Linked DNA regions of Homo sapiens: regions 1 and 3 are each linked to region 2. Evidence: fine-mapped QTL for protein levels in blood plasma. A gene starts in region 2. Each other region holds a variant in brackets. All regions are shown on one strand. Distances are from middle to middle. Region 1 overlaps IARS1 (isoleucyl-tRNA synthetase 1). Region 2 holds the start of ASPN (asporin). Region 3 overlaps CENPP (centromere protein P).

Region 1 (8,436 bases), 250 kb before region 2:
TGTTGAGATTTAAAAGATCTTTACGTATTCTAGATATGTCTTTTGTCAAATATGTTGTTTTATAAAGATTTTCTCCCAGTCTGTAGCTTGTCTTTCATCCTTTTATAGGATGTTCAAAGCAAAACCTAAATTTTCATTTAGTTCAATATATCACTTTTCCCTTTTAAGGACAGTGTTTTGTGTCAAGGCTTTAAAACTCTTTGTTTAATGTTTAAATGAAAAATCTTAAGACTTTTCCAAAAATACTAGTAGAGCACTTTGGCCACCTAAGTAAGTAACCTTAATTTATTCCATCTGCTGGGAATATACTTTTGATCCAGCTATTGTTTCATAAACTAGTGTGTTTTATATTATAGTACCTAGCACATGGCTACAGTTTTCAAATGAAAGCTAAGAAATCTGCTTATCTGTATGCTTATACATGCCTGTGCATGTAGGTATGTTACGTATATGTGTTATTTTTTTCTTTTTTTTTTTTTTTTGAGACGGAGTTTTGCTCTTGTTGCCCAGGCTGGAGTGCAATGGCATGATCTTGGCTCACAGCAACCTCCACTTCCCGGGTTCAAGTGATTCTCCTACTTCAGCCTCTCGAGTAGCTGGGATTACAGACATGTGCCACCATGCCCAGCTAATTTTGTATTTGTTTTTTTTTTTTTTTTAGTAGAGATGGAGTTTCTCCATGTTAGTCAGGCTGGTCTTGAACTCCTGACCTCAGGTGATCTGCCTGCATCGGCCTCCAAAAGGGCTAGGATTACAGGCGTGAGCCACCGCACCCAGCCATGAGATGTTTTTCTACCTCCAGATGGTATGGTCAAAAATTAATTCATAAAAGATTTCTATTTAATTGATTTAAAGAAAAATAAGCATTTCACATAAATTAAGTATTCTCTCAGCAATATAGAAACCAACACACATGCTTTTCAAGTTCATGTGACTTGGGTAAGAATATATAATGCAGATATACAACTTTTAAATCCTACCAGGATTTATTATCAAATAAGTTTATGTTACCTCCACTACATATTTATAATTATACAACTATGAGTTCAACCTATGAACAATGTGCAAGTGGGTGCCAGTATCCATTACTTCACGTTTTTCGAGTGCAGCAAAAAAACAAAAAATCTCATCTATTAAACTTTTTAGGATTCTTGTTTTTGTGAAGACTGCCGAACATGCACATGCTGTAAAAGTAGCTAACAGAGAAATAACTTAATGATAGCTAGCTTTGTTTGTGTTATGTCTACTCAAAAATAGCTCCCCACTGGTAATTTACAGCCTAGGGGTTTTGTTAATTTAAATGATGAATATTCATTGGATATGTAGATATTTTCCAAATAAAATACTGAAGCATTAATAGTGGAACATAAATTATACTACAAGGAAGCATATGTTTCTACAAATTTGATTCATAGATTTGCCAATCTATAGAATGCTGATGTGACAGTTATAACTAGAATAAGAGAAATGATTCTGTATGTGAGGAAAAGACATGGTTTTGGTAAGGTGAAGCTATGAAGTATGAAGGATGTGTGTTCGTTAAGAGAAAAAGACTAACTTTTGCCTTATAGTAGAATGACTTGTTTCACAGTAAGAGGAAGAATTTAATCCAAAACAGAAGGGTATGAGAAAGTTGTAGTAGGTTTGTGGAAGAGGAATCTTGGAAAAGGAATTTTATGTGTGGTCAACCTGGGTAAGTTCTGAATGAATTTATTTATAAATTATCAAATTAATAAGCCTTAATAATACCAGCACTTTGGGAGGCTGAGGTAGGAGGATTGCTTGAGTCCAGGAGTTCAAGACCAGACTGGGCAGTGTAGTGAGACACTGTCTCTACAGAAAAGAAAACAGAGAAACAGAGTCCTCTCTATTAAAACTGCTCAGGTCTTTTTATAACTTTGTGACTTTCTATATTTGCCTTTGATATTTTTAATTATCACTCTGGTTAAATGAGTGACTGTAGCTTCAGTGACCTGCAATCCTATTAATCAAGTGTTTTAAGCCTTTGATATTTTTTACTAGCTTCCCAAAATCAAACTCTAAACTTAAGTCTTTCTGACCTCAAGCTAACTTTGGGAGCTTTCAGAGGCCCCCTGAAATATCTCAAGAGAATTTTCTTTCATTATGAAGAGAAACAGTAAACAAGTTAGACTTATTTGACTACGTTAGATCTGCATGGGAAGCGCTGTCAAATAAGAAATGTTGTTTAACCTTCTTTAACTTGTACAAATAATGTGTTCCAGAAATTGTGTGAAATTCTTAGAAATCTGATAGCCTGGTCTAATGTTATCAGTCATAATTCTAGTTACCTTAAAATGCTGTATACCACAGAAATAACTAAACTTCCTTGTCAATTGCAACATTAGTATAATGAACTCTCATTAGATATTTAACCATGGCCATTTAAAGTCTTGTCATCCAACGATAGTTAATTGTTTTACTCTGGCACTTTCCTGAAAACTATTGTAAGCAACAGTGAATCTAAAGTGTTTCATCTTTGAGGAGATGCAATGGAAAGGACTCTGACAAGTACAGGTTTCTGATGTTAAGATCACACCATTGGACTGGGTAAGAATTATCATAACTCTTGTGAAGTAATTAACTAATTCATGATGCTGTCACAATGGCAATGACATTTTAACCTGAGTTTTGGAGGACACACTCAAACCACAGCAGGATAGAAGATACATTTTTACTATATTGAATCTTCTAATCCATACACGTCTCTCCACTTACTTAGATTTTGTCTGATTTTTTTCATCACTATTTTGAAGTTTTCAGTATACAAGTCCCAACATGTTTTATTAGGTTTACATCTGAATATTTTTTTGGAGACAAGGTCTCACTGTGTGGCCCAGGCTGGAGTATAGTGGCATGATCATGGCTCACTGCAGCCTCCATCTCCCAGGCTCAAGCAATCCTCCAACCTCAGCCTCCCAAGTAGCTGGGACTAAAGGCGAACACCACCACACTTGCCTAGTTTTTTATTTCTTGTAGAGACGGGGTCTCACTTTGTTGCCGAGGCTGGTCTCGAACTCCCAGGCTAAAGTAATCCTCCTGCCTAAGCCTCCCAAAATGCTGGGAATACATGCGTGAACCACCACGCCTGACCTAGCATCTTTTTTTAAGTGACTGTAAATGATACCACATTTTTAATTTCATTGCCCACTTGTTCATTGCTAGTATAGATTGCTATTATGAAATAAAATTCATTTTTGTATGTTTATCTTACATCCTGTGACTCAAAAGTTTTTTTCTTTTTTATAAGCAATATGATTTCTATTCAATTACTTTGGAAACCCAATTAATGCTTGAATCCAAAGGGTATAGAAAAAGGCCAAACATTTAAAAATAACAGATTTAGCGATGATTTGTATGGTTTTTTCCCTCATAATATGAATGCTTTCAGCAGGACAGTAAATTGCAAAACATATCAAATCATATTAAGGCAGACGACCAAGCTGTGGCTGCATTTAAAGCTATTACTAAGAAAATAATCTTGGAGTTGAGAGCTCTTCTTTCCAGGTGTCTGGTCAACTGACCCAGGAATGGCCAGTCCTGGAGTTGGTAGATGGGAAAATAGGCCCTACCTGTCTTATCACTGCTCATGCTGCTGGCCCTCTGTACAAGAACACTGTTCTTGTTTACATTACTGATGCACACCACTGACCATCCGATTCCTTCTACAGGGTAACCTGAGACAGCCAGGATGTTGGCAGTGATGGACCAGCTCAATGCCATACAACATCACTGAAGTTGCAAAGCAGTTCAGGGAACCATGTACTGTCTGAGACATCATCACAGGTCTAAATAAACACACAACCATCATGGGAGCAGCTGGCATGGGAAGATCAATATGGTGATCCCAGGCCACATCTTAAAACCAGGCAATATGAGCTTTTTTTTTTTTTTTGAGATGGAGTTCGTTCTTGTTGCCCAAACTACAGTACAATGGCGCGATCTCGGCTCACTGCAACCTCCGCTTCCCAGGTTCAAGTGATTCTCCTGCCTCAGCCTCCTGAGTAGCTGGGAGTACAGGTGACCGCCATCACACCTAATTCTTTATATTTTTTCGACAGGGTTTCACCATGTTGGCCGGGCTGGTCTTGAACTCCTGACCTCAGGTGATCTGCCTGCCTTAGCTCCCAAAGTGGGATTACAGGCGTGAGCCACCAAGCCTGGCTTATTTTTTCAGGTGTTTGTATGTATGTTCCTTATGATTTTCTATAGAGTCAGCTTTATTCCTTTCTTTATCTGCATGACTTTTATTTCCTCGTCATGCCGTGGTCCACTGGCTAGAACTTCCAGTACAATGTCGAATATGAGTTGTGATTGCCTTGTTCCTGATTTTAGGTAGAAAGAATTCAGGCTTTCCCCATTAGGTATAATGGTAGCTGTAGGATTTTTGCAAAATGCTCATTATCCAGTCCACAAAGGTCTCATCTCTTCCTATTTTTGTGAGGATTTTCATCATGAATGGGTGTTGAATTTGATCAAATGCTTTTTATGAATCAACTGCTATACTCATGTAATCTTTTAGTCTGACAATACGATAATTACATTG[AT/A]TTTTTTTTTTTTTTTTTTTTTGAGATGGAGTCTCCCTCTGTCGCCCAGGCTGGAGCACAGTGGTGCGATCTTGGCTCACTGCAACCTCTGCCTCCCAGGTTCAAGCAATTCTCCTGCCTCAATAATCCTACTCTCCTGAGTAGCTGGGATTACAGGCACGCGCCACCATGCCCGGCTAATTTTTGTATTTTTAGTAGAGACAGGGTTTCACCATGTTGGTCAGGCTGGTCTTGAACTCCTGACCTTGTGATCCACCCGCCTCAGCCTCCCAAAGTGCTGGGATTACAGGCGTGACCCACCTCGCCTGGACTAGATTGATTTTTAAATATTGAATCAGCCTTGCATCCCTGGAATAAATCCCACTTGGTGATGGTGCATAATTCTTTGTATACATAGCTGAATTCTATTTAATAATTTATTGGGAAGAATTTTACATTTATATTCATGTGGAATATCTGTTTTCTATCTTTTTTTTTTCTTTTTTGAGACAGAGTCTCGCTGTTGTCGGCCTGGGCTGGAGTGCAATGGCACGATCTCAGCTCACTGCAACCTCTGCCTCCCAGGTTACAGCAATTCTCCTGCCTCAGCCTCCCGAGTAGGCTGAGATTACAGGCGCCCGCCACCAGGCTTGGCTAATTTTTGTATTTTTAGTAGAGATGGTGTTTCACCATGTTGGCCAGGCTGGTCTCCAACTCCTGACCTCAGGTGACCCACCCGCCTTGGCCTCCCAAAGTGCTGAGATTACAGGCATAAGCCACCGTGCCCAGCCTATCTTTTTTGTTAATACTGTCTTTATCTGGTTTTGGTAGCAGGTTAATAACCACATAAAATGAGTGAAATGTTCCTTCCTCTTCTATTTTCTGGAAGAGTCTGTGTACAACTGGTGTTAATTCTGGTAAGAATTCTCCAGTGAAACTGGGCCTGGAGATTAGTTCAGAGATTTTAAATTACAAATTCATCTCCTTAATAATTATAGGGCCATTAAAATTATCTGTTTGATATTGTGTGAGTTGTAGTAGTTTGTGTTTTTTAGAAACAGGGTTCACTTCAGGCCAGGAACAGTGGCTCAAACCTGTAATCCCAGCATTTTGGGAGGCCAAAGAAGGCCAGACCACTTGAGGCCAGGAGTTTGAGACCAGACTGGCCAACAGGGTGAAACCCCGTCTCTACAAAAAAATACAAAAATTCATCAGGCGTGGTGTGGCACACCTGGAATCCCAGCTACTCGGGAGGCTGAGGCATGAGAATCACTTGAACCCAGGAGGTGGAGGTTGCAGTGAGCTGAGTTGGCATCACTGCACTGTCCAGCCTGGGCGACAAGCATCCAAGTTGTCAAACTTACATATGGAGATTTATTCATAGTATTTGCGTTTTTGATTTTGGCAATCTGTATCAATAATTCTTTTTATTCCTGATATGCAACTGTGTCTTCTTTTTCTTTATTAGTCTCACTAGAGGTTTATTAATTTTGCTGAATTTTTGGGTAAGAACCAGATTTCTGTATCATTAATTTTCTCTATCGTTTTTGTTTTCAATTGCACTGATCTCTTATTTTTATGTTTTTCCTTCTTCTTACTTTGCATTTATTCTGCCTTTTTTTCCTATCTAGTTTCTTGAGTTTAGACCTTAGGTTATGACTTGAAACCATCTTTCTTTCAGTTTTTAGTGCAACAGATTTCCGTCTCAGGACTGCTTTAGCCACATTCCACATATTTTGATGTCGTATTTTCCTTTACACTCAGTTCTATGTTTCTTTCCCTCTTGAGACTTCTTCCCTAATCATGGATAATTTAAAAGCATGTTGTTTATTTTTAAGAGTGTGGAGATTTTCATTATTATATTACTAATTAATAGTTTGATTCTACTGTGGTCAGAGAGCACACTCTGGTTTCAACTGTATTAATTGGTTGAGGTTTGTTTTATGGCCCAGGTTATAATGTATCTCAGCAAAGTTCTGTGAGAGCTCAAAAATAATTTATATTCTGCTATTTTTGGCTGAGGTGTTCTAACTGGTCTATTGATTACTGAAAAAGGTACTTTGAAGTCTCCAACTATAGTTGTAGATTTGTCTATTTCTCCTTTAATGTCTGTATCTTTTTATTTCATGTATTTTGTAACTCTTTTGTTAGACGCATATAAATTTAGGATCACTGTTTTCTTTGTGTACTGACACTTCTATCATTATTTAATGCCCCTGGTAATTTTCTTTGCTCTGAAGTCTGTTTCATCTAATACAAACATGACCATTCCTGCTTCTTTTGATTAATGTTTGCATAGTATATATTTTTCTACCCTTTTACTTTCAACTCACCTGTATCATTATATTAGAAGTTTGTTATAGACAGCATATACTTGGCTAATGTGTTTTTAACAATATGCCAATCTTTCATTTGTTCTGCTTGTTTTTTTGAGACAGAGTCTCGCTCTGTCACCCAGTATAGAGTATAGGAGCGTGATCTTGGCTCACTGCAACCTCCGCCTCCCGGGTTCAAGCGATTCTCCTGTCTCAGCCTCCTGAGTAGCTGGGACTATAGGCGCCCGCCACCAAGCCTGGCTAATTTTTGTATTTTTAGTAGAGGTGGGGTTTCATTATGTTGGCCAGGCTGGTCTTGAACTCTTGACCTCAGGTGATCCGCCTGCCTTGGCCTTCCAGTGTTGGGATTACAGGCGTGAGCCACTGTGCCTGGCATATTTGTTCTGATTTTCTCTCCTAGCTTCTTGTGGGTTACTGATATAGTTTGGATATTTGTCTCCTCCAACTCTCATGTTGAAATGTGATCCTCAATGTGGGAAAGTGGGGCTTAGTGGGAGGTGTTTGGGTCACTGGTGCCGATCCCTCATGAATGGCTTGGTACCCTTGTTGCAGTAATGAGTGAGTTCTCACTCTGTTCGTTCATGCGATAGCTGGTTATTTAAAAGAGCCTGGCTTCTATCTTGCTCCCTCTCTTCATCATGTGATACACTTGCTCCCACTTCATCTTCTGTAAAGCAGAGTAAAAGCTTCTTGAGGCCCTCAACAGAAGCAGATGCTTGTGCCGTGCTTCTCATACAGCCTGCAGAGCTGTGAGCCAAATAAACCTTCTTTATAAACTAGCCAGCCTCAGGTATTCCTTTATAGCAATGAAAAATGGACTAATACAGTTACTTAAAACATATTTTAGAGTTCCATTTTTTATTTTTCTAGGGTTTTATATGTATCCTGTGGTATAGTCTTTTCTTAGTGGTAACTCCAAGTAGTACCTAACATAAACATAACTTCCTAAGGTCCACTGGTGTCAATATTTTACCGGTTTGTGACAAATGTAGAAACCTCGCTCCTTTGTAATTGTCTTAACTATTATTTCTTGTTCAGTAAATCCTTAATGTTGCTGGTAGGTTCTTGGAAACTGTGACTTCAAGCAGAATGATGTACTATATAATAAACCAACTTTACCACAGGAGTTAAGTTCCCATGGCACACAGTACATCACTTCACTTAAAGTTGCAGGACCCAAGAACTCACTGATGATGTTGAGGCCTTAGTGTATATACACAGAGAACCACATCGAACAATGATATAGTGCTTGCTGGACCCATGAGAGTAATGAAAGTCTATTGAATTACCCTCCATTTTGATTTTCCATTTTTCTTTTTTCCTTCCTGATGTTTCTGGATTCCCTCTTTCATTATTTCCTTTCTGTGGTAAGAACATCCTTTAGCTACTCTTTTAGGACTGGTCTGCTGGGAACGGATTCTTTTAGTTTTCTTTCACTTGAGAATGTCTTTATTTTCCCATCATCCTGAAGGGTATTTCTGATTGATATGGAATTCTTGGTAGACAATACTTATCTTTCAGCACTTGAAAAATGCTGCCTTTTCATTTTCTGGCCT
Region 2 (8,000 bases):
GTAGTGGTCCTGCTTTTTTCCACATCCCTGCCTCAGGGCTGCTGACCAGTCCCCCAGTGGCATCAGGAGAAGCATCAGCCGGGGCCCCTTCCTTTGTCTCTCCTCTTTCTGAGACTGATAAGTTACAGGAGACCCTCCCTGCCTTTAATCAAAACTGCGGTAAAATTAAAATATGAAATGGAGACTTCTGCCTGCAAGTTTTAGGCAGTAGCATTATCTTTAGCTGTTGGGAAGCATTCCAGTTGCTGAGCAGTGGAGGCAGCCACTTTTATATAGTAGTTAGGCCCTTTCCTGGAGAATAAGAGATGAAGACCTTTGAAACAGGAGTTCCTCCTGGTGGTGAAGGTTCCAGAACATTCTGGAACAGGGAGCATATCCACCCTGCTTGAATAGCTCCAGGGAGAGGATACTACCTCAAGGCAGCATCTTCCACAGTTGTCCATCCATGGCTGTTAGGAAAGTCTTTATATGGAAACTCAAAAATGCCTTCTGGAAAATTCATTTCTCTCTGCTAGTTCTGTCTTCTGTTAGCCTTTTACAATTAATCTAATCTTTTGCATTTGTGTATCCTGGTTGCTTGCAAAGAAAAAAGTCAGGCCAACCTTGATACCATGAGGAATTCATTATTTACACTCTTTACCTGAGTCTCTTGCTGGGTCTCTTCCACTGCTTTGTTAATAAGTACAATCAAGTATAGGTCCTAAACCTCCCCCAGTTCAGTGTGCAACTGTTTACCAATAGGAAAATAATGGAATGTCTAGGAGAGAACCCTAGATAGCAGTATTTTTTTCTTATTATTCAGAAAGAATGTAGAGAATATTATATGTCATTTAAAATGATATGACTTTTGGCTGTTTTATTTTGAGTTTATTAATGAGGTACAACCTCTGTTTTATTAGTTTTGGCAGTATTCAGGTTACTCTATTTTTAAACCCTTTAAAAATATTAAATCTTCTTCTCAGGAATACTCAATATTTCCCTGATTTAGACCAGTTTTGCCAGTGTTTTCCACTCATGGAAAGCTTTGGATTTTGGTTTCAAGTCTCTCTTAATCAGAGTAGTGTTTGGAGTATTCTTCCAGTGCTACTGCTATTACTAATAAATCATAGTAGCCTAGAGCTAAGAGAGGTCTTTGAGACTTTCCCCCCATGGCCCTCTTTTACTGAGAAAAAGCAGAGGCAGTGAGCGTCCAGAACTGGCTGGAGGTGGTGGAGCTGAGGGCTGGCTTCCTCACTGCTTGTTGGTTGTGCTTTGCACTAGACTGCATGTCCTCCTAAATGGATTTTAATCTCATAGTTACTTCCAGACAGTAAACAGACTTTCCTCTGGAAAAGCCTAGGTAAGGAGGTTTGGCCAAGTTCTTAAAAGAGTTCATAACATATGGACTGGAAATAAAGCTTAAGAAGCACATAAGCTTTCTTGTTTCCATTTAACTGGTCTACAAACTTAGAAAGTTTATCTAAGTGAAATGGTATTTCCTCTCAGACACTATTATTAGGTAAATAAGTCACTGTGCTTTTAAATCCCATGTTTAAAGGCCCGCTTGGCAACTTTTCCCCTGGGTTTAAACATGCCTATCAGTTCACAGGTACCAGTAGCAGATTTCAGCATATAAATGTGATATAACATACTCCATATATTTCACCGAAGGAATCCAAACCAAATTCAGATGTAATCAAGGCATAGTCTTGTAAGCTAACAAATGAGTTAAAAGTCCAACATGCATTTGGAAACTTATTCACAGTACCATTTGTTCATGGATACTGATAAAGATAGCACTTTCCTTAAAAAGTAGTTAATTTTACCTTAGAAGTATAACTAGCATTCTGACAAAGCATTCTAGCTGTTCTTCCTTTTATACTAATTTTGCCCTTCATTAATTTCTCCACATGTCTAGCAATCAAGCTACTGTCTTAAAAAACAAAATCTACTGCCTCTCCATTTTTATGATGTTTCCCACAGTGCCTCAAGACTTGTGCTTGTAAAGTTAATTGTTTTTGTCTCAAACCTCAGATCAGTTATCAGAATATTTGTTTTTAATTGAGTAGTTAGTTGTAACAGAAGACTATATATCCTCTGTTCTTTCCACTACTACACTATACTCCTTAATGCCAAAAAACAAACTAAAAACATCAGGATCCTTTTATGTGTGTGGGCTTGTGCTCGATTTTTCTTTCTTTTTTCATTTCTTTCTTTTAACAGCTTGATTCTTGGATTTAAACAACTTTATTTTTAGGGAAATACAACCCCCTCAGGTTCTTTATGACTCAGTCCCTACACCATGTGGCCACTGTTTCCTGGGTGCCACACCTCTGAATAGATTAACATGAAAGAATGCTGTGCGCTATTTAGATTACTAGGGAGTAGAATATTGAATACATTGCTTAAATTTTTTAATCTAAAATTTAATCAGAAATTTACTTTGGGAGTAGACAAAGGAAATCTTTGAAAGTGTTAAATTCTGACTGTATACATGCTGTGAAAATTTCCTAATCTTTCATATTGAATATAGTGCTAGCTAAACTATTGCTGATAAGTATTCTTTCTTGGAATTGAATAGATTTCCATTTGAACTTTTCAGTGCCATTTCATTATAATAAGGAAGACATTTATCAAGGAAAAAAATGAATATTCAAATGTATAAGTAAAATTGACATTTCAGTAATTCACACATTTTAAATACACATTAGAAAATATTTTAAATATTGAAAAATATATTTACTGTTTCATTTAATATAGCTGTGATATCCCCAAACTTCATGATCATTATTATAGCAATGTTATTTTCCTAGATAAACATACAAGATGTTTATTTAGATGACTTTTAAAATCAATCATGTTAACATTTATGGTAAGGCATAATGACAGGTTTTCACTTAGCTGAAAAAAAAAGTCACATAATTATATTTAAAATACATTCATTATAGGTAAGACATAAAACTAGAATAATTTTAGGTACAAATTTAGGTTTGTATTTAAATGCTGATTTTTAAGAAATTATAGAGATAAACTTTGGACTTTATCCTATTATTTATAAGCATTTATTAATAACATTAATGTCTCCTTAGTATTGACTGTAAAGTATACATCGATACTTGTAAGATAGACATGAAACATACCTGTCAGAAGAGAGTAGTCCTCCTAAAAGTAGAAGTTATCCACCATGTACTACTTATCTATAATGTAAATGTTCTCAGACACTGTGTAAGAAGAAAAGATGAGGAGGTATTACATTTAAAAGAAAAAAAACACCCTTCAACACAGTCCTGGTGTGGCTGCACCCTGGGTGATACTGGAATAAACTGCTCCCACAGATTAGTCCATGTTAGTACTGAGGAGCAAGATTAAAACTTGTTACTGCTCATGTGTTTTCCATCACTGTTTGTATCGTAGCCAAGACTTCTAGCTAAACTCTAGACGTCTACTGGAAGATTCTGAAGAAGAAAAAAAAAGAAAGTTTAATAATGCATGGCAACTGGCCATTGAAAGTGCAGTCGGAGTCATTCAAGAAATACCTAGTTTTAAAAATATTAGATTCTTAAGTGAATGAATATTTGTAAATTACAATTTCAAAAATTACTCAACCTGTATAGACTAATAAAATATTTATCAATCTGAATAAAGGATACCAACATTACTGAAGTATATACCCAAACTTCAGATGTACCTGAGAAAGAACCATACTTTTTTTTTCTTCTAATGACTGTAGCTATTGCATTATGCATACTTCTCCAGACTTTTTTTTTTTTTTAAGCTTTTAGCACTGCTATAGCATGTCAGGGAAACTATGGATGAGGCTCCATGAACTGCTCCCTGGACTCAACATATGTGATATAACACAGACACACATGCATGTCCAAGTAACACCCTCTTAGGATGCATACAACTTTCCCTTTTCAAGAGAATATTAGCTATGGCCTCACTGACATTTAGGGAGACTTAGAGCAGGGAAGATGCTATTTCCTGAAAATAAATCATTATTTGTACCCCCTTTCCACTCATCCCCAAGAGACTGCCCAATTCTACATCAACTAAGACCTTCAAGAGAGGACAGTTTTCTTTTTTTTTTTTTTGAGACGGAGTCTCACTCTGTCACCCAGGCTGGAGTGCGGTGGCGCAATCTTGGCTTACTGCAAGCTCTGCCTCCCAGGTTCACGCCATTCTCCTGCCTCAGCCTCCCGAGTAGCTGGGACTGCAGGCGCCCGCCACCACGCCTGGCTAATTTTTTGGTTTTTTAATAGAGACAGTGTTTCATTGTGTTAGCCAGGATGGTCTCGATCTCCTGACCTCGTGATCTGCCCGCCTCGGCCTCCCAAAGTGCTGGGATTACAGGCATGAGCCACCATGGCCGGCCTGAGAGGACAGTTTTCTAACCCTAGTGGCAAGGACTTACTGTTGTAAGTGACCCCAATGGTTCTTCCCAACTGTTGTATAGATTTGGAGGCCAGCAAAGAGCTTTTCCAGTGGGTTAGAAGACCTGTTCTCTACTGTCATCAAGAGTCTGACCATCGTTTGTTCCCTCTCTCCAGAGAAATGGCACACATTGTGTTAAGCAAGGCAGCTACAGTCCTAAAGAATACATGTGCCTCAGATGTGCATAGCAGCTGGCTATGTGTTCATCCTCCCCTCACTTAAATAAAGTACTCCTCCTTGGACCTCTAGGCTGACAGTTCCAGGCAGCTCGGTAGTCCCATTAGTGGCCCTCTGTAACTCAGGCCCCATCCTAGCCCTGCAGCACCTTAGGGAATGACGGCCCTCCTGTTTGGTTTAGAATGCTCATATTCTCATTTATTCAAGTATATTTCAGTTGCAAATGTATCTGTTAACTGGATGAATTGGGAACATAATGAAAATATGAACTGGATTTTTAAAATCTTTGTATCCAGAGCATCTAGTGTTTGCCTAAATTCCTTCAGAACACAGTCATAAACAGGAAGCCCTTGGGTCAAATTCAGTTTGTCCTGCACAATGTTTTGTTTCTGAACTGTTTATTGAAGTGTATGTTACCAAAAAAAAACATATCATAATGGTACAACTCAATTAATTTTTACAAAATGACCCCAATCAAGAAATCCCAGCCTCACACTCCATTCTCATACATCCAGAATCCCTCCTCTTACTCCTCAAGTCACAGCCTGAGTTCAGCACCATAGGTTATTTCCTGAACTTTATATAAATGGAATCATACTGTGCATTCTCTTTTGCATCTGGCTTTTTTCATTCAGTGACATGCTTTTGAGATCCATTCGTGTCATTGTGATACACAGTAGTTCATTCTTGTCACTGTATAGTATTCTCATACATGAATAAGCCACAAATTGTTTATATATTCAACTAGATTAATTACCTTTTGGAGAGGTACTATGAACGTTCCTCAGTCTGTCATTTGGGGGTCATGTGTATGTATTTTTGTTAGGTGAAATTGCTGTATTTAAAAATAAGATTTCAACTTCTCTTTAAAAATTAGGCTTTCCCAGTCTGTGATTTCTGGTTTTGCATGGCAACTGTTGTCTCTGGGACTTGTGTTTTTCTCTTCTATACTCACAGGATGTTGTCCACGTCACCCACCCAAGGCACTCCTCAGTCGAGTTGCCTGCATGGCCTTTCTGGGTGCAGTTTTGCCTCCCATATCTAGAGAGTTGAGAGGCAGTTCCTGTAAGATTGTGTTTCTAAAGATATGTTACAGCTACTTTTCCTTCTCCCCACTGTGAGACTTAAGCTAGTCTTCCTCTGATATTTTGCTTCGATCTTTGGTCAGAGGGCCTAGGGAAAGAAATAGGCCCTGGAATAAGATGCTGGGGTTAGGGGTAGTATATTTGGCTTATTCACTCTGTTCTGCAGATAATGTGGTAAAGGTGCAGGCCTCAGGCACAACCCTCCACCATCTTGGGGCTGTGACATGGAAAGCTTTGCCTCACATTTGCCAGAGATGGTGCAGCAGGCACGAACGTGCCATCTGGGAAGAAACTGGAGTTTATCTCCACCCTTTTCCAGGTTATCATTCCAAATGAAACAGTGTACCTCTTCTTCCCTCAAGTATTGTGAAGAGAAAAATCTTCCATTTTTGTTTCCTAAAGGGGTCCTATGGAGGGGACCTAGTTCTTTTCTCCATGCTTTTTAAATTGTTTTATTTTTGCCTCATTGAGCCTTAGTCTAAATATTGAAGAACTAGTTGCATTATAACAGTATATTTAGGAATCACAAGTAATTTACATGTTGCAAACACAAAGATAAATTACAAAATTGAAAAAGTAATATTCTCAGTACTGACAGTTTATGAATAAAAATATTGATTGCCATAAAAGGAACTTTAATGCAAATTTATTTTCCTTTGGCCTTATATATGCTAACCATCGTGAAAATAAAAATAAATTGCCTAATCTAAGCTCTCGTATGATTTCTCACACCCTTTCTAGAACTTCTCCTGGTCTAGACATGGACAACAGTGGTCAAAGTCCAAACACAAATAAGAACAGGGGAGGACCTTGGAAACTGTCTCATGCAAATAAAAGATTGATTGATTGACAGAGTCTCACTCTGTCACCCATGCTGGAGTGCAGTGGTACAATCATACCTCAAACTCCTGGGCTAAAGCAATCCTCCCATCTCGGCCCCCCAAAGTGCTGAGATTACAGGTGGGAACCACCTGCACACAGCCCAAATGAAAAGGTTTGATAGGTGAGGCAGGAGCTATAGGAGCAGCATGTGTCAGGAGTATATTGTGGGGCACACACACACCTGCCAAAAAAGTAGGCAGTTTGAATTTTCTGATGTTCTTTTGCCAGTCTGTGGTGTCCTTCACATTCTAAATGAATTGGAATAGATTGTACAATGTTCTTTTATAGTAGTAGCTACAAGAAAGGCCGTCCACCAATCCATTCATTCAACAAATAGTGTAAGTGCTATGGAGAGAAGCAGGATAGGGGTGGGGGTGTCAAGGGTGCCCTCCCTGTCAGGTGACAGTCACAAGACCTGAGGGCTGTGAGGGAGTTAGCCGTGCCATGCAAACACCCACTTTAAGAATGTTCTAGGCCACTGAATTCTAGGATGTAAATATGCATAACATAGGGTTTTTTGTATAGTAGATGCTTAAAAAAGCTTCTGTGAAGGGATAAGTGATTAAGATTTCATGAGTTTTAATGTTCAAGTGTCCCTCATGGTGGACTAGGCACTTCGGTTTCTAATGAACTTATTTTATACTGTAGGTTGTGACCCAGGGGCAGTATTCAACATGCAGATTGTTTGGAGCATATAGTATTTTTAAAAACCAGGACATTTGATATCGAAGTCCAAATTTACAATGTATTTGGAAAAATATGAGCTGGAAAAACTGACCCTGATGTCCTATGTAGCAGCAATTTGCTGAGCACGTAGGCCCTCCATGGTTCTCTGCTGCCCTGACCTCCTCTTACCCTCTCCTCACAGCTCTTCCTGTTGCAGGGACTGGCTTCTGCTGTGTCATGTGGCTGAGCTCACTCTGTCATCCTACTTGAAGTTTCTAGTTCTGAAAAATGAATTATAATAAATTGTCACTAAATGTTCATTCCGTTGAATTTATGAAAAATGAAGGACTTATACAATTTTGTTTATTATATTTTGCATGTGTCAATTTTTTTTTTTTTTTTTGAGACGGAGTCTTGCTCTGTCACCCAGGCTGGAGGGCAGTGGCACAATCTCAGCTCACTGCAACCTCCACCTCCTGGGTTTAAGCAATTCTCCTGCCTCAGCCTCCTGAGTAGCTGGGATTACAGGTGCAGGCCACCACGCCTGGCTAATTTTTGTATTTTTAGCAGAGATGGGGTTTTGCCATGTTGGCCAGGCTGGTCTGGAGCTCCTGACCTCAGGTGATCTGCTCGCCTCGGCCTCCCAAAGCGCTAGGATTACAGGTGTGCACCACCACACCCAGCTGTGTCAAATATTTTTAATGAATGTCTGAAGTCAGTTTGCTTTGAGGAATCTGTACAAGTAATGGTTTTGTTTTAAATAAATTTCTTACCTCT
Region 3 (8,000 bases), 16 kb before region 2:
CTAGGATAAAACGAGCAGAGGTGTGAATTTGGCAGAAGCTCAGTAACTGCTGACAAATGTTAGCACACTTTTGTACCGGAATTTCTGTTCCCACCCTGTCTTCAAACAGGTCTCCCCTCTTCCCCACATAATATTATGCAGTAGAACTTCCTGAACGAATAGGAAAGAAGACATTTTCATCCTGTCCACATGATAACTTGTTGGGTCTGGTAAGGACCCTCAGGATACCTGCATCCTTTCATCTTGCCACAGGGGGTAATACTGACTGGATTATGCCATGCAGGCAGTCAGCTTTCACAGGTTAGTGAATTCTGAATGTCAAGGGGATTTGAAGGAATAGTTATTTAAGTTGAGAGATTTGATTCCAATTTAAATTTCTAAAGATTCCTTTTGGCTTTGAAAGAATCTTGAAAACTCATGAGAAGTTAAACCTTTACTTTTAAGATACACTTTGAAATTTAAATAGAATTTTGCAGTGTAGGAAAGACTTTTGGTGTGAACATAAAGAATGGCCATGTCAGGAGATGTGGCCTGGAACAGCAGCTCCCTCCTCCAGCCCTGTAGGCTGTCCTCCTCTCCTCCCTCTACCTTCCTCTTTTCCTTGTCTTCACTCTCCTTTACTGGATGTTATCTTCCAGCAGATGAAAGGGATTTTATATGTTTAACTTATTGGGTAGCATTTGCATTTTTTGTTGTTTTTCTAAAATGGGAAGGTAAATGTAACATTTTTGGTTTCTTGTAGAAAAACATCCACCTCCTTTAAAGCTACACTGAGGTGTTTTTTTGGATTTGTATAGTTCTGAATTAAACTGTTGTTTTCCTGGATAGAAAAGTTATTTTTCCTCTTTTACTTTAGATGATCTTTAGGTGACCTAAGTGAAAGGTCACCTCTTGATTAATAATAACAGCTTTACTGTGTCTTTTAAATTATCTGTATATGTTTGTTTTATTGATCTTCTGGATCAGGTGAGTAGATTAGAGGGGGTCGTGATGAAGTTGCTGCTTTAACTCATGGATACTGAAAGACGGAGCTGTTGGAAAGTAAAAATATGTTGTTAATCATAGGGGTTATTTTTGGCCCAGTTAGTCATCAAAGCAAAGAGAGCATGTGCCCTTGTTGGGAATAAGGAAAGCAAGACTTTGAGCAAGAGTTCCAAGAAAGGCAATCCTATGCAGCTAATCATCAGACAGGGAGCTTGGAAGTAATGGGTTAGAACACTGGTCATCTGGCAGACTTAAGGAGCATTCTACTTGAGGTGCTAGCCTTGGGTCACACAAAGCCATGATAAAGAGCACAGTGCTCATCTTGGTAATGATTATGTCACAGGTGGTCACTTCCTACGTGCTGGATGTTGTCCTCAGACCTTTCTGTGTATTGGCCCATTAGTCTTCACAGTACACCTGGGAAGAAGCTGGGTACAAAATGCCTTGCCTTGAATGGCATGTCCATTCCTGCCAGAGCCAGGGGCTGCCCAGTCTGGGCTCATAGGCTTCACCTCAAACTGTGGCTAAATGCCTGGGGACAGGGTCTCTTGCCCCATCTATCTTTCTCTGCTTTCTTCTGTATAGAATTCTCTACCTCTAACAGGTACTGCACAGAATGACAGGTATAAATGAGTAAATGTCAGGAAAGAGAAGGAAAACTAAAAGTTCATTGCTTCTTAATGTTTATTCTTAGTGGAGTAAAAAAAATTGTGGCTTAATTCTGTCAGGAAAAAGGCACTACATATGGCATTTTATGTGTGTGTAGACTATATTGACCAGATTTACTGGTGCAAAGATTTCTAGTTGCAGTGTATACTGCACAGTTTACAATATTAGATTGAATCGTTATTGAAAGGTGACAACTTTAAAATACCATATCTTAGATAAAGTAAATACAAACCTTTAGGAACTGAGGTCAGTTTTGCTTCTGCAATTCTGATATGGAACACCGTCACCCCTTCAAATGCCCCTGGCTCTATCCCATTATTATCAAGAGGGTTTGCACTCATTTCTGTCAGGGGAGAATGACATGACTTAGCACACATAGGTTGTATATAAAGGAAACTCACAGTGCAGAGAGACACATCCCAAGAATGAATATCCCAAGAAGCGTGAGCTTCATCCTTTAGGCTCATTTTCACTCGGTATATCTGCTTCTGTCTATCTACTGTCCTTTCTGTCAGCATCAGAAAAATACGGCTTTGTATTATGTAAACTGGAATATATGAGAAGTTCACTATTTTTCACTTTGAATTACCATATCAGTGACATTTTCACTCTCCTCCAACCATGAGCACAATTAAGGTTTTGTTATTGTAATAGTGCATCAAAAAAGATCATCCTTCATATAATCCAAAATGTTTATGTTTTTCTGTGTACATTTTTGTGTCTTAAACTTTTTTTAAATTGTAAGTCAATTAGAAATTGTTGTTTTGTTAGCAGAAATATAACCTTGAAGAAATGCCAGTAAGTGAGGCCAGGCACTTGGTTGAATTAAATGAATAAATGAATTAGTATCTTGGTTATGAATTTTGAATGGATATTATAGGGAGATGGCATGGTTATATGATAGGTGTCAGAAATAAAATCAGGTAGAGTTTTAAATATAAGACAAAAAATTCCTCACATCGATAATCTTAAAGCAGATAACCAAATGTTAGGTGCACATTCCAAATAATATCCAAACTAATTTTGTGTATTATATTTGAGTAGCTTATGCAATACATTAAAAATACTACCTTTAAATTAAATAATAAGTTATATTTTATTAGGGTCTGGTCAGAAACAGAAACCACGCTAAGTGTTTCAAAGGAGGTTCTTTTTTTTTTTTTTGAGATGGAGTTTCATTCTGTCACCCAGGCTGGAGTGCAGTGGCGCAATCTCGGCTCACTGCAACCCCTGCCTCCTGGGTTCAAGCAATTCTCCTGCCTAAGCCTCCCGAGTAGCTGAGATTACAGGCACCTGTCACCACACCCGGCTAATTTTTGTATTTTTAGTAGAGACAGGGTTTTACTATGTTGGCCAGGCTAGTCTCAAACTCCTGACCTTAGGAGATCCGCCCGCCTTGGCCTCCCAAAGTGTTGGGATTACAAGCGTGAGCCACCAGGCCTGGCCTCAAAGGAGGTTCTTCAGGGAGAGAGAGACAGTATTACGAAGATCATATTTTCTTTAAGTGCTAAACATTTTGTTGGACATTTTAATTGGTTTATAAATGGCTTATCTAGGCAAAGATTATTCAAAAATTAATTTTGGAAATTATTCTTAATAGTGACGATAAAGTGTTCTACATCTGCTTGTTTGTTATAATTTCAAGATGTCCCATTCATTTGAAAAACTTACCCAAAACGTGTAAAGCATTCATT[C/T]CTTTGAATGTGTCCTTTTGTATTTTCTTAACTTTATTTTCATGAATTCTGAGTTCTGCTAATGATTTGGGAAGATTAAGTGGTATTTCACTTAGTTGATTGTGGGACAGATACAGCCTTCGCAACTTCTTTGTGGTTAGAAAGGCTTTTGGGTGAATCTTCGTTAGCTTGTTGTTGTTCAGGATCAGACCCTTGATCAAGCATAGAAAGTTACACAATATTAGGAAGTGGATTTGATTTACCAGTATTCTACAGTGATTAGCCAATGATGGAAATCAGTACAATTTATATCAGTGGTGTACTAGATCACCCATGTAAAAACTTTCCCAGCCCAATCTAAGCTTTTAAAAAAATTTTACTACTGAGTTAGAAAAGTGCAGAGCTATAATAATTAATGTTGTGCCATTGGTTTAGATAGAAGTGCATCTTTTTAATCTTTGAATAGATAATACTTTCATATGGCTAAGCCTTCAACCTCTACTCAGCCTCCTATTTCCCTTCAGGGAAGTGACCAGTGATATTATCTTTATCTTATCTTAAAATCTATTTACTCTACAAAACTATGTTTAGTGCACACCAAATATACTTTTGCATGATTTTGTCTACTTTGAAAACCTCATTTCTTTCATATTTACTAATGTTTACCATTTCTCCCAGAACAGAGGCCTGTAAGGAAAAAAATCCTACCATGTGCCCTCAGCATTCTGGCATATTTTAGATATTGGGGATATAGTAATGGATCCTGAGAAATGACTCAATCTCTTATCAGTTTTTTGGGTATTTCTCAGGGCAATAAGACAGCATCCTCCAGAGGAGGTCTAATAACTCCAGAGAGTAAAAAGAGCTCGTACCAGTGTGAGTGTGCTCTCTGCACAAGTCTTTTGCAACATGTCCAAGGGTGCATGGCTGCTTGGGTGACCAGCCATCTCAGTCTGCCCAGATCATGAGATTATGGGATGTGGGGATTTCAGAACCCAAACTGGGAATGTCCTAGGCAAACTGGGACATGTTGGTAACTCTGATAAGGATTTTCATTGCAAAATGAGCATAGCTCAGTTCTTTACTCTTTGCCAGATTGTTCAAAGAGAATTTCTGTGTTTACCAAGAATGATGACAGGCCACTAAGCGTCTTCAGGACCTTTTTGTCCCTCTTTACCAATCCAGGTCATCTGATTTTCTCAAGGAGCAGCTCTAGATTCATTCATTTTATGATTTTGTTCTCAAATTCATTTCACAAAAATCTCCCTTTGTTTAATATGCCTCACTGGTATTACTCATATTGTTGTTGTTTTTCCATGGCAGAAATACACATTTTGGTTGCTCAGTAAACTTGTATCTGCACGTTTCCTCATCTCACTCTTGGCCCTTTGTGCTTTCCTTTTCTCACCCTCTGGAAATTCCAGATATATCACTATTGCTAAAAGTTTCACCAAGAAAGGGTAAGCCTAGGAGAAGAGGTGAAACTACATTTTGTTACCAACTGGTAAAATATCCTCGTTTGTGAGTGTGTGATGCCAACTAAAAGTATCTTCTCTTTTCCTTTGGTTACACTGAAAAATGAGGTGAGGGGAATTTAACAACTTGGTGGATCATCAAGATGGTTTGTGAATCCTCTCTTGATTCCAAGAGGTAAATTTAGCAGGAATTATTACTCTCCTTTTAGTGATGAGGAAATGCGTAAAGTGAAGAAAGGTGACTTGCCTATGCCATGCAACAAGTGAGGGTTAGAGAGGCCCCACCACAAAGTGAACCTGTGCGTCAGTGAGATCCAAGTCTAGTGCACTGGGCTTTTATTAGTTTGTTTTTCCTAATTAAAACATGCAGTTGTTGGAACTGCATAAAAGGAAGGAAAAGTAATACAAAACTGTGTAAGAGGTTTTGTGCAGCACTGGTAAGAGCCGCGCCACATGGTGGACTGCCTGCCCTGCATGGTGAGCTGGCTGAGTGATCCAGTTAAACTGCACTCTCAGTGCTGGCTTGATTATCACAGAGCTTCCAATTCATCATTAACAAACAGTGTAAGGACAGAAGATGAGAAGAGCATAGCCATTCAGTAGTAGGACAGTGATTCATGCCACATGTGTCTCATAATGGCTGGAAGTGAGCTGGGAGGGCTGTGATTGTGTTCAGTGATTTTGCTCTGACTGTATCATCCTTTGTGTAAGAACCCAAGTGCCAAACAAGCAGCTAAAACTTAACACAGAGAATTTGTAGAATGTCTAAAAAATAGTTTGATTCTCTTAAAAGACAGGTACCATATAAGGTGATACTATAATTATATAAATGTTTTGTAATTGTGTGGTATACCTACAATTCAAGTATAAAGCATGTACTTTAAAAAGTGATTTACATCAGTACACCTGGTCAGTCTGCTAATAGTAGCTTGGCAGTAATACTACTTAACAGCTGGGGGCTTTCCCTCCATTGCTCTACACCTGACATGCATTTCTCAAAGGAAATCAAGTAGGTCTAAGAAAGCTCCTGATACCATTTAGTTTCTCATTTCCCTGTGAATAACAAGAATAAGTATGGACTAAGTCCCTGGAATGCTCCTAAAATGTAATAAAATAATGATATGATGAATTTAAAACTTTCATAGCCCCAGTATTAAATATGCCATTAGTTATTATTCTTGTGGTTATCTAAGCTGAAAAGGGGTTGAAGAAGTGGTAAACGCATCAACAGGCTATATTTCCAACTTCTGTTGGTGGAATAATGGCCTGCCATTCTCCAAAAGATTCTGTGGCCTAAAGTTAGTGGGGTGGACTGGGTGGATCCTCGGTGGAATCCATTGTGTCATTTCTGACTGTCTTAATGTTTTAGTGAGACCTAACTTATAAATATATGCTCTTCTAGTTGCTCTTTTATATTGATAATGGAGGCTTACCAGATCTGAGCTGCCTGCACACTTTGAAAGTGAAAAGAGCAGACAAGGTGCTGGCTACCTGACCGGGCAGTGTGAGAGCTGGATTTTGTAGGGAGGCTTGATGCAAGGATTGAGCATCCCTCAGTCTGCCTTAAGTATGATCAGCATGCATGTCCTCAATCCCAGGGTGACAGGGAGGAAGAGATGGGCCAGCAGGGTCCACTGCACTGACCCAGGGTGACAGGGAGGCATGGTGACCCCACATCTCTCAGACACAGGAACAGGCCAGGCCTGCATGGTAGCAAGGGGCTAATATTGTTATGGTATTTTCTACCCTGTTCTCTTAGTTTTATCTTATCTAGAGATGACAGACTTTAAATTTGTTTTCTCCAGCACAGCCTGAGAGTGTGGGGAAATGGCCTGGAATAGCCAGGCCTGGCTTACCACCTCAGATGATACAGAACCAGAGCTCTTCCTCTAACACCATGCCAGAGTCAGCGAGGCAGGAGCTGTGCTGAGGGGAGGCGGTGGCGGGGGAAATGAGGTGCTCCTCCAAACCCAATTTCAGACTAAATCAGAAATTTTACTTGCTAAAATCTGGAGACTTCGAAATGATTTTTTTGGTTTGTTTTTGTTTTTAAGACAGGGTCTTACTGTGTCACCCAGGCTAGAGTGCAGTGGCATAGTCACAGCTCACTGCAACCTCTACCTCTTGGCTAAGACTACGTGCACCACCACCATGCCAACTAATTTTGTATTTTTTATAGAGGTGGAGTCTTGTTGTGTTGCCCAGGCTGATCTCGAACTCTTGGGCTCAAGTGATCCGCCCGCCTTGGCCTCCCAAAGTGCTGGGATTATAGGCATGAGCCACCACACCCAGCCCAAAATGTTAAACATGGAAGTAGTAATCTTTTAAATCCTAGAATATTAAAATGATACTAATACAGTAAAGAAAAAATTCTTTTCTTCTTTAAAGATCCAATAAATAAGCCATACATGTATATATTAATCAATCAGATATATTCTGTGTGCTGCTGTTAGAGATTTGTGGTGTCTTAACACGTTTGGGTAGAGATTTCTTACACTGTTTGCTAATGATTGCTGTAAGTAATTGTTTTCTTGTTCATTTTAATGTATAGTGACTGTTACTACCTGAATAGATTGTAAGCTTATTTGAGGACCATTAAACTCAGCCCACTACATTTTACATGGCTATTATTTAATAAACATCCATTGAATTAGACTATTAATTGAATGAAATCTATAATTTTTAATTGACTAGAACGCTGTTGAATGCAGGGATTTTTGTCATTCTTTACAGAAAAGTAAGACTTGTTTATACTAACATAGTATAATTAATCATTATAGCAAAGATACAGAGTTTTCACTTAAATCTTTGAAAGTATGAGGATATATTCTTACATAAAGTGAAGTGAGTCCTTTAAAATCATTTTCTTTGATTTCCTTAATTTTATTGTTTTGAAGATCAAGCATTCGAGTATCAAATGGAATGTTGGTTGGGACTGAGGTCAAACCTTAGAAAGAAACAAACATATTATATAATAGAGAATCATGCTGAAGATGAGATTACTAATATGGTAGAAATATACATTTTTTAAAACCCATGATTATCATCAAGTTACAGATGACTTAACAGTCATAACAGATGACAAAAAAAACATTGTTTTGGGGGAAGACCTCAGGACCTTTTTGAGTAACTTATTAATTTTTACAAGGTGTCTAGATTGGTATAGTTGTCACTACTCATCCCCTCTAAGGTGGAATAA

What was found. PIP is the chance, under the fine-mapping model, that this variant and not a neighbour inherited with it causes the effect. Protein levels are from the aptamer-based SomaScan assay of Sun 2018.
Region 1: its variant is fine-mapped to the plasma level of the ASPN protein (Sun 2018, PIP 0.95).
Region 3: its variant is fine-mapped to the plasma level of the ASPN protein (Sun 2018, PIP 0.95). The variant lies in the coding sequence of ASPN. If it changes the protein, the assay may bind it differently, which can mimic a change of level.

The regions. Positions count from the first base shown.
Region 1 is chr9:92,230,949-92,239,384 of GRCh38, forward strand. The region is part of intron 30 of IARS1 (isoleucyl-tRNA synthetase 1); the gene reads right to left. Among named protein-coding and RNA genes, the nearest start is that of MIR3651, 57 kb to the right of the region's middle. The variant AT/A (reference allele first, on the strand shown) is at 4,565.
Region 2 is chr9:92,479,174-92,487,173 of GRCh38, forward strand. It overlaps ASPN (asporin), which reads right to left and starts at 3,333. Exons shown (of 8, transcript NM_017680.6): 1 at 3,120-3,333. The region is part of intron 5 of CENPP (centromere protein P); the gene reads left to right.
Region 3 is chr9:92,463,034-92,471,033 of GRCh38, forward strand. The region is part of intron 5 of CENPP (centromere protein P); the gene reads left to right. It overlaps ASPN (asporin), which reads right to left. Exons shown (of 8, transcript NM_017680.6): 3 at 7,636-7,748; 4 at 3,325-3,538; 5 at 1,886-1,996. Among named protein-coding and RNA genes, the nearest start is that of ASPN, 15 kb to the right of the region's middle. The variant C/T (reference allele first, on the strand shown) is at 3,348.